2 linked regions of the Homo sapiens genome follow. The protein of the gene in region 2 interacts with the protein of the main gene of each other region in a biochemical or structural test. Each region holds a gene or a part of one and is shown on either strand. Other genes may lie near its edges.

Region 1 (3,800 bases), on a different chromosome or scaffold from region 2:
TCGGCTCACTGCAACCTCTGCCTCCTGGATTCAAGCGATTCTCCTGCCTCAGCCTCCCGAGTAGCTGGGATTACAGGCACCCGCCACCATGCCCAGCTAATTTTTGTATTTTTTTAAATAGAGACGGGGTTTTACCATATTGGCCAGGATGGTCTCGTACTCCTGACATTTGATCCGCCGGTCTCGGCCTCCCAAAGTGCTGGGATTATAGGCATGAGCCACCGCGCCTGGCTTAATTTTTGTATTTTTAGTAGAGACAGGTTTTGCCACGTTGGCCTGGCTGGTCTCAAACTCCTGACCTCAGGTGATCCACCTGCCTCAGCCTTCCAAAGTGCTAGGATTACAGGCGTGAGCCACCATGCCAGGCCATGAGAGAGGTTTTTTTTGTTTGTTTGTTTGAGACAGAGTCTTGCTCTGTTGTCCAGGCTGGAGTGCAGTGGCACCATCTCAGCTCACCGCAACCTCCGCCTCCCAGGTTTAAGTGATTCTCCTGCCTCAACCTTCCGAGTAGCTGGGATTACAGGCATGTGCCACCACACCCGGCTAATTTTTTTGTATTTTTTTAGTAGAGATGGGGGGTTCATCATATTGGCCAGGCTGGTCTCGAACTCCTGACCTTGTGATCTGCCCACCTTGGCCTCCCAAAGTGCTGGGATTACAGGCATGAGCCACTGCGCCCGGCCAAGAGAGTTTTAAAACAGAAGAGTGAATGGTTTATGGGTGGGCAAGAGTGAAATCCAGGGCCAGGCACGGTGGCTCACGCCTGTAATCCCAACACTTTGGGAGGCTGAGATGGGTGGATCACCTGAGGTGAAGAGTTTTAGACCAGCCTGGCCAACATGGTAAAACCCTGTCTCTACTCAAATACAAAAATTAGTTGGGGCTGGGTGCGGTGGCTGACTCCTGTAATCCCAGCACTTTGGGAGGCTGAGGCAGGTGGATCACCTGAGGTCAGGAGTTCGAGACCAGCCTGGCCAACATGATGAAACCCCATCTCTATTAAAAATACAAAAAATTAGCTGGGCGTGGTGGCGGGCGCCTGTAATCCCAGCTACTCTGGAGTCTGAGGCAGGAGAATTACTTGAACCAAGGAGATGGAGGTTGCAGTGAGCCAGGATTGCACCACTGCACTCCAGTCCAGGCAACAGTGTAAGACTCCGTCTCAAAAAAAAAAAAAAAAAAAAAAGATTGGCTATAGTTTTCTCCCACCCATCCTAATCAGGTTCTGCCTCCATCGCTTCCTGAAAGTGCTCTTGTCAAGGTCACTAATGTCCTCTTGGGTCATTCTCCTTTTTTTTTTTTTTTTTTTTTTTTGAGACAGAGTCTCGCTCTGTCACCCAGCTGGAGTGCAGTGGCGCCATCTCAGCTCACTGCAAGCTCTGCCTCCCGGGATCACGCCATTCTCCTGCCTCAGCCTCTCCCGAGTAGCTGGGACTACAGGCGCCCGCCACCACGCCTGGCTAATTTTTTGTATTTTTAGTAGAGACGGGGTTTCACCATGGTCTCGATCTCCTGACCTCGTGATCCTCCTGCCTCGGCCTCCCAAAGTGCTGGGATTACAAGCATGAGCCACCGCGCCCAGCCCCTCTTGGGTCATTCTCTAAATTCGCCTCACTGCATCTCTTAGCAGCATGAGTCACTGTCTCCACCTCCCTGCGCTGGAGCACTCAGGCACTCAGGGCTCTGCTGGGCCTTCTCCTCCTCCATCAGCACTCTTTCTTTTTTTTCTTTTTTTTGAGACGGAGTTTCAAAAAATCAGACCCACCAAGGCATGTGGCAGTTGTGTTGCTCTTTGCTCGGTACCCGCTAGAGGTCTGTTGCCATTAATTTGAAATGAGACCAGTTAGTGTGACTGTGCATCTTTCCTGGCAAGTTAAATGACTATAGTTTCTCTGTTTGTAAAATGGGGATGATTATAATAGCACCTGCCTCACAGAGTTGTGAGAATTAAAATAATCAGTAATGAATTAAAGCACTTAAGGCCGGGTGCGGTGGCTCACGCCTATAATCCCAGCACTTTGGGGGGCCGAGGCAGGTGGATCGCCTGAGGTCAGGAATTCAAGACCGACCTGGCCAACATAGTGAAACCCTGTCTTTACTAAAAATACAAAAATTAGCCGGGCTTAGTGGCGGGCGCCTGTAATCCCAGCTACTTGGGAGGTTTGAGGCAGGAGAATTGCTTGAATCCAGGAGGCGAAGGTTGCAGTGAGCTGATCGCACCACTGCACTCCAGCCTGGGCAAGAGAGCAAGACTTAGTCTCAAAAAAAAATAATAAAATTAAAAAAAAGTACTTAAAACAGCACCTAGCATATAGTAAGTGTTCGGTAAACACTAGTAGTCACTGGTATCAGTTGTGTGCAAGCCAAGAATAGGAGGATGGTATGGTTGAGGTTTACCAGGAGAGAAAGACAAGGGTATCCTGAGAGTGTCTTCAAGAGTGTGCATGCCATGGTGGACTAGAATCTACAGTGGGTAAGGAACTGGACTGTAAATAAGTTTTTGATGAAGCTGAATAAATTGTCATGGTAGAAATAGCAGAGCAGGGTCAGGCCTGGTGGCTCACGCCTGTAATCCCGACACTTTGGGAGGCCGAGGCGGGTGGATCACCTAAGGTCAGGAGTTCGAGACCAGCCTGGCCAATATGGTGAAACCCCGTCTCTACTAAAAAAGATACAAAGTTAGCCAGGCATGGTCGTGATTATGATATTAATGATTATAATATTAAAACATTTTAAAAAATATATCTTGCAATACAGATAGTCAATTTGTTTTCTTTTTTTCTTTCTTTTTTTTTTTTTTTTTTTGAGACAGAGTCTCGCTCTGTGGCCCAGGCTGGAGAGCAGTGGTGTGATCTTGCCTCACTGCAACCTCTGTTTCCCGGTTCAAGCGATTCTCCTGCCTCAGCTTCCTGAGTAGCTGGGATTACAGGCACGCACCACCGCACCCGGCTAATTTTTGTATTTTTAGTAGAGATGGGGTTTCGCCAAGTTGGCCAGGCTGGTCTCAAACTCCCGACCTCAAGTGATCCACCCATTTCCGCCTCCTAAAGTGCTGGGATTACAGGCGTGAGCCACTGCTCCTGGCCAGTCAGTTTGTTTTCAAAAGATTTTTGTGGCTGGTGTGGTGGCTCATGCCTATAATCCCAGCACTTTGGGAGACCAAGGTGGGAGGAATGCTTGAGCCCAGGAGTTTGAGACCAGCCTTGGTAACACAGCCAGATCCTGTCTCTATCAAAAAAGTTGGGCCTATGGTCCCAGCTACTTGGGAGGCTGAGGTGGGAGGATCGCTTGAGCCTGCGAGGTTGAGGCTGCCATGACCTTTGATTGCACCATTGTACTCTAGCCTGGGCGACAGAGTGAGACTCTGTCTCAAAACAAACAACCAAAACCTTTTTGTGCTTTTTTTTTTTTTTTTCCTGCTAGTGTACCAGTTCTATCGCAACCTCTCTCATTAGGTATTTTCATTTTTAGTGTCTACAAGCTTAGCATTTGAAATAGATAACTTTTTTTTTTTGAGATGGAGTCTTGCTGTGTCCCCCAGGCTGGAGTGCAGTGGCGCGATCTCAGCTCACTGCAAGCTCCGCCTCCCGGGTTCACGCCATTCTCCTGCCTCAGCCTCTCGAGTAGCTGGGACTACACGCACCCACTGCCACCACGCCAGGCTAATTTTTTGTATTTTTAGTACAGTCGGGGTTTCACCATGTTAGCCAGGATGGTCTCGATCTCCTGACCTCGTGATCCGCCCGCCTTGGCCTCTCAAAGTGCTGGGATTACAGGCGTGAGCCACTGCACCCGGCCTT
Region 2 (4,596 bases):
CCTGTGTGCACACCTGGTCATCCATGAGTGACAGCAGGGGAGAGACGACCAACGTGAGGCAGGGGCTGCGCCGGCTGTAGAGCAGCGCTGGGAGCTGGTAGCACAGGGACTTGCCGGCACCTGTAGGCAGCACCAGCAGCGTGGAGATGCCTGGATGGGGCGGGAGTCAGCAGCAGGGTTCTGCAGCCTGGCCTCAGCCCAGCCTCAGCCCTGGCAGCCACGCTCACCAGACAGGATCCGCATGACTGCACGCTCCTGCCCAGGGCGAAAGGCTTGGTGCCCCAGCTGCTCCAGGGCCTGGAACACCTCAGCCGGCGTCTCTGCAGACACAGATGTTGATCACCATGACTTGAGTCACCCCAACCCCTCAGTGAAGGCTCTGGGCCAGAAGCTGACTGCTCACCTGCCAACTGCCCTGAGGGCCCCAGGGAGTAGAGTGGCAGCACGGTGGGGTCCAGGCTGGGCACCTCAGGTACAGGTTGTGGTGAAGGAACCAGTGGCTCAGGCCCAACAGCATCTGTGTCTTCCTCACTTGCTGGGGCAGGCAGGAGAGGGTAGAATGGGAGCTCCAGGTCGGGCAAGACAACCACTGGCCACAACCTCTCCTTCCCCCAAAGGGGGTTGGCAGCAGGCAGTGCCCTTCCTCTGGGCTACTTTTTCCAAAGCAGAAAAGAGTGACAGCCATCGTCGTCCCTGCCACCCTCCTTCAGGGGAGCTAGGGTAGGGCCTGGACCAGGGGTACCTGGAAGGCCTGTTGCTTGGAACATAAGTGTCCCCCAAAAGAGCACTGCGCCCTCTCCACAGTGTTGGCCGGACCCACCCTCCAGGGCAGATGTCTCACCTGGCCGGGGACACTGGGCTGCCCAGTGATCGAACTGCTCGTTCAGGAAACAAGACTCCTTGGTTGTGACTGTGGCACCACCACCCCCAAAACACTCCCCTTTCTTCCGCCACTTCTGCTTCCATGCCTGGGGGGTGCCCACATAGGAGGGTCACTGGGCGGGAAATACGGGAGGGCTGAGGGGAGGGAAAGGGAATGCCTGTCCTGGCCCGTCGCTGTCTTACCTGCTTGCGGAGGAGCCTGCTACGGAGTGCCCGGCCCCGCACGTAGTGTTTCTGCTTCATGTTGAGCCGTACGTAATTGCCCCTGTCATGGCGGGCCAGCCGAGGGAAGATGTGCAGGGGGGCTGTGCCCTCAGCCTTCCCAGCCCTAGCTTGACTGGAGGGGCTGAGTCCGTGGTACCTGGGGTTCGATGGGCTGCTGCAGGGCTGAGGTGGCTGTGCCTGTACAGGTTCCCCTGGAGGGTCTTCCTCAACTGCTACAGCCCCAGCCCCCTCCGATGGGGGTCCAGCTTGGCTGCTCTCCTGCTGGACCTGTGCGGGGCTCTCCCAGGGCTCCTCGTTCCATCTCCGCTTCTCGCCTCCACTGCTGCTGGGCTGGGGGCTCCCCACACGGATGCTGACTTCTTGGAAGGCTGAAGCCTCTGGGCCCTGGGAGCCAGCACCAGGACCAAGGACAGCCGACTCACCAGGGATCAGAAGTTGTGATTCCTCTGAGCCTAGATCAGGCCTGCAGGCTTTGGGGGCCCCCAGAAAATCTGGGACCTCACTGTGACATCGCTGTAACCAGCCAGGATCTAGGGAGCCCAGCCGCTGGCTCAGGGATGCCTGCAGATGCTGGAGCCGGCCTGGCCTTGGCTGGGGCTCAGGGAGCTGTGGAGGCTCATCACTGACTTTTTCTGCAAAGGAGGGGACAGGCCCTGTACCTGGGGGCTTTGGGGTGGATGCCTTAGATGAGGCTCTTCCTAGAGGCCACGGTCTGCGGCCCAGGGCTGGTCCGGCCTGGGAGGGGAACAACAGAACAGCAGGAGGAACTCAGGCCCCTGAGCTACTGTAGACTCTAAAACCTACCTGAGTCCCCACGCTCAATTGTAGAGCAGGCTAATTAGCACAAGGCTGGACTAGAAAGGGAGTCAAGGGCGAAGGCCCCGAGAAGCTCCCTGAAGACTCGTGCCCTGGTTGGCACAGGGGCCCGTGCCTGTCTGTGTGGAAAAAATGACAAGAGGGCGACCCGGACCGGAAGCAGCTGTGGACCTAGCGTGGACTCACTGCCTGCCCACTCCTCACCTGCAGGGTGCCTTTCAGATTGGCCTTGAGCCGCTGCCCGTAGTCCGGCACCGAGCCCTGGCGGCTCCGCCCTGGCGTAGACTGTGGACTCTTGGTCGCAGCCCGATTCAGATGGGGCCCCCAGCAGCGGGGCTCTGGCGCCTGCAGGAGACAACAGGGGCACAGGCCAGAAAAGGCTGTTGTGGCGGCAGAAGCGCTCCCAGCCACCCCTCCCGCACCTGGAGCGAGGCCCGGCCCTTCTTCACTTTGCCCAGTCCCCCTCCCAAGTTCTGTGCCCCACGGCGGCCTGGCCGCGACTCCGTGGCTCCCGCCACTCCGCCAAACAGGGAAGTGGGAGGAGGCTGGGGCGGCGGGGCCTGGGTACCTCTTCGGCCGCCGCGGGGAGCGACTCGGAGCTGCGGAGCCCGCCGCCGGCCTGGCCCGTGGTACGCTTCAGAGTGCGGTATTCCCGGTAGAGCGCTGCGTGGGCGAGCGGGAGGCGGGGTCAGGGTGGGGCCTGGGCCCCTGCCGACCCGGTGTCTTCTCGCCCCCGCCGCCCCGCCGCGCGCTCACCGCGGGTCTCCTCCGGCGCCGCCTCCACGTCGTCCTGTAAAGGGAACGCGTCAGCCGCGGGCCGCGCCCTCAGCCCCTCGGCCCCTGGGCAGCCCGCACCTGGCTCGGTCGCCGCCCGCGCTGCCGTCGGAACGCGCGCTCCCACGCCTGCAGCCGCTCCCGCACGTCCCGCAGCCGCTCCATGGCGCGCGCGCCCGCCCGGCCTCCGCGCTTGCGATCGTCCAGCGAATCTCCCGCGCAGCCGTCGCGGGGGCCGACAGCCAATGCGGATGCGCGGCGGGCCGGGGGCGGGGCCACCGCCCCTGGGCAGCCAGTCCGTCGGGCCTCGGACAAGCAGCCAATGGGAGGCGTCAACGTCATCGCGGGGCGCCGCGGCGCCGGGCGGGGAGCGGCGGACGGTCTAGGCGGGGCTGGAGGCGGTGGCTGCGGTTGCGGGACCGGTGAGCGCGGGCGGCCGGGGGGGTGTCTGAGCGGGGCGGCGCACGCCCCTGGCCCTGCCTGGCCTCAAGGGGCGGGGCACCGGTCGCTCGGGGCGGCCTGGCCGAGGGAGGCAGTGGCTGCATTTGGGAGCCCGGGGCCGAGGCCGGGAGCCTGGGAGGTGCCACCGCGGGCCGGGAAGGACTGGGAGTCCCCGGGCCGGTCGGAGCGGCGTCAGGCCCTGGTGGGAGACGCATCCGACCTGGAGGAGCAGGCCCCGCTCGGGAGGCGAAAGAGCGGAGGGTCCAGCGCCTCCCGCGGCTCGAGGCCCGGAGGAGCCGGGCGGGGGCGTCTTCGCGAAACGCAGGCGACCGAGGACCGTCGCGTTCCCTGCGGCCGGCGGGAGGGGAGGGGGCGTCGCACGGAGGTGCCTGCCTCCCTTGGTGGGCAGGCCGTCTGCTTTGGTGTTCTCCCGTGACAAGTGCTCGGTTGGTCTGTCCTGTCAGAGCGAGTATGATCGTTGAGATCTGTCCACCGGCAGAACTAGGCCGAGGGTTGGTGTCTGGGACTTTTCAGGAACCGGTGCCTTAAGGACTTACTTGTATGTGGAAAAGTCGACAAAAAGAAGGGCCTTGGGGCCAGAGTGTCTTCCCCGGCCCCCTTCCCTGGCTTGTCACTCAGGCTGTGACCTTGGGCCAGGCCGAGGCCTTCATTTTCTAATCTGTCACAGGGAGATGGCTGCGATTTAGTTTTGAGGATGCTACAGGCAGCAGCAGGGCTGGCACCCTGTGTCACAGGTACCTTGTGGCCTTGGGAGTGTTTGTGCATCTCTGCAGCTTGGGTGCTGCTGAGGCAGCTTTCTTTGCCTTGTCTGAGCAGTCTGTAGCTTTGCACCTTCTGAATCCCACATACTTAAGACTTGGTCTTTCCACAGTGGCTCTCCAGGGAAGAGGGAGAGGTTTAGGCCAGTGGTAAGGGCCAACAAAGGTGAGGGTTGCTTTCTTTCGGGGTCTCCGTGCTTGGTGACGCTCTGGAGAATAGTAGCTTTTGCGGGGGCTTGTATTTTATAGGCTACATCATCTGGACTCGGTGTTCCCTGGGTCTCGGTCTTTTCAACCTGCCTTGTTGCTTATGAAGCTGCTTCTGTGCTTCCAGCTCTTTGGTGTTTTGTGGAGTCCAAGTGTAGCCCTGGAGAGCATCTGTGAGGAGAGGGGAGGGAAAGGTGATTTGGCTGCTTGACTCCTTAGAGTGTCCCGTCAATACTAATGCTGATGAAGGTTGGTGGGGAGAGTCCTGGGCTTTATTCAGGTTTCGAAGAAGGTTTTGTGAAGCAGCTTTGTAATTTGAGAGGCCTGAAGTACCCATGGGGGGCCCTGCAAGGCAACAGGCATCTGTCAAAAGCATACCCAAGCAAGCGAGTTGTTGACGATGCCACACTGCTTGACGCTTAGTTTCTCTAAAGAGATCCTGTGCATCTGGAGGGCTGGGGCTGAGTTGTGA

Evidence for each region.
Region 1: the proteins of RECQL4 (region 2) and WRAP53 form a complex in vitro, tested with the Homo sapiens proteins (one study listed by BioGRID).

The regions. Positions count from the first base shown.
Region 1 is NC_000017.11:7,691,457-7,695,256, forward strand, and holds part of WRAP53 (telomerase Cajal body protein 1), read left to right. Parts: intron 1-3,800. UniProt on the Homo sapiens protein: RNA chaperone that plays a key role in telomere maintenance and RNA localization to Cajal bodies. Specifically recognizes and binds the Cajal body box (CAB box) present in both small Cajal body RNAs (scaRNAs) and telomerase RNA template component (TERC).
Region 2 is NC_000008.11:144,514,923-144,519,518, forward strand, and holds the start of RECQL4 (ATP-dependent DNA helicase Q4), read right to left. Parts: upstream 2,912-4,596; 5' UTR 2,863-2,911; coding exon 2,779-2,862; exon of another isoform or gene 2,714-2,778; coding exon 2,680-2,713; intron 2,587-2,679; coding exon 2,492-2,586; intron 2,269-2,491; coding exon 2,128-2,268; intron 1,843-2,127; coding exon 1,066-1,842; intron 969-1,065; coding exon 842-968; intron 536-841; coding exon 404-535; intron 321-403; coding exon 228-320; intron 151-227; coding exon 14-150; intron 1-13. UniProt on the Homo sapiens protein: An ATP-dependent DNA helicase which unwinds dsDNA with a 3'-overhang in a 3'-5' direction. Does not unwind more than 18 bp of dsDNA. May modulate chromosome segregation. The N-terminal domain (residues 1-54) binds DNA Y-shaped DNA better than ss- or dsDNA.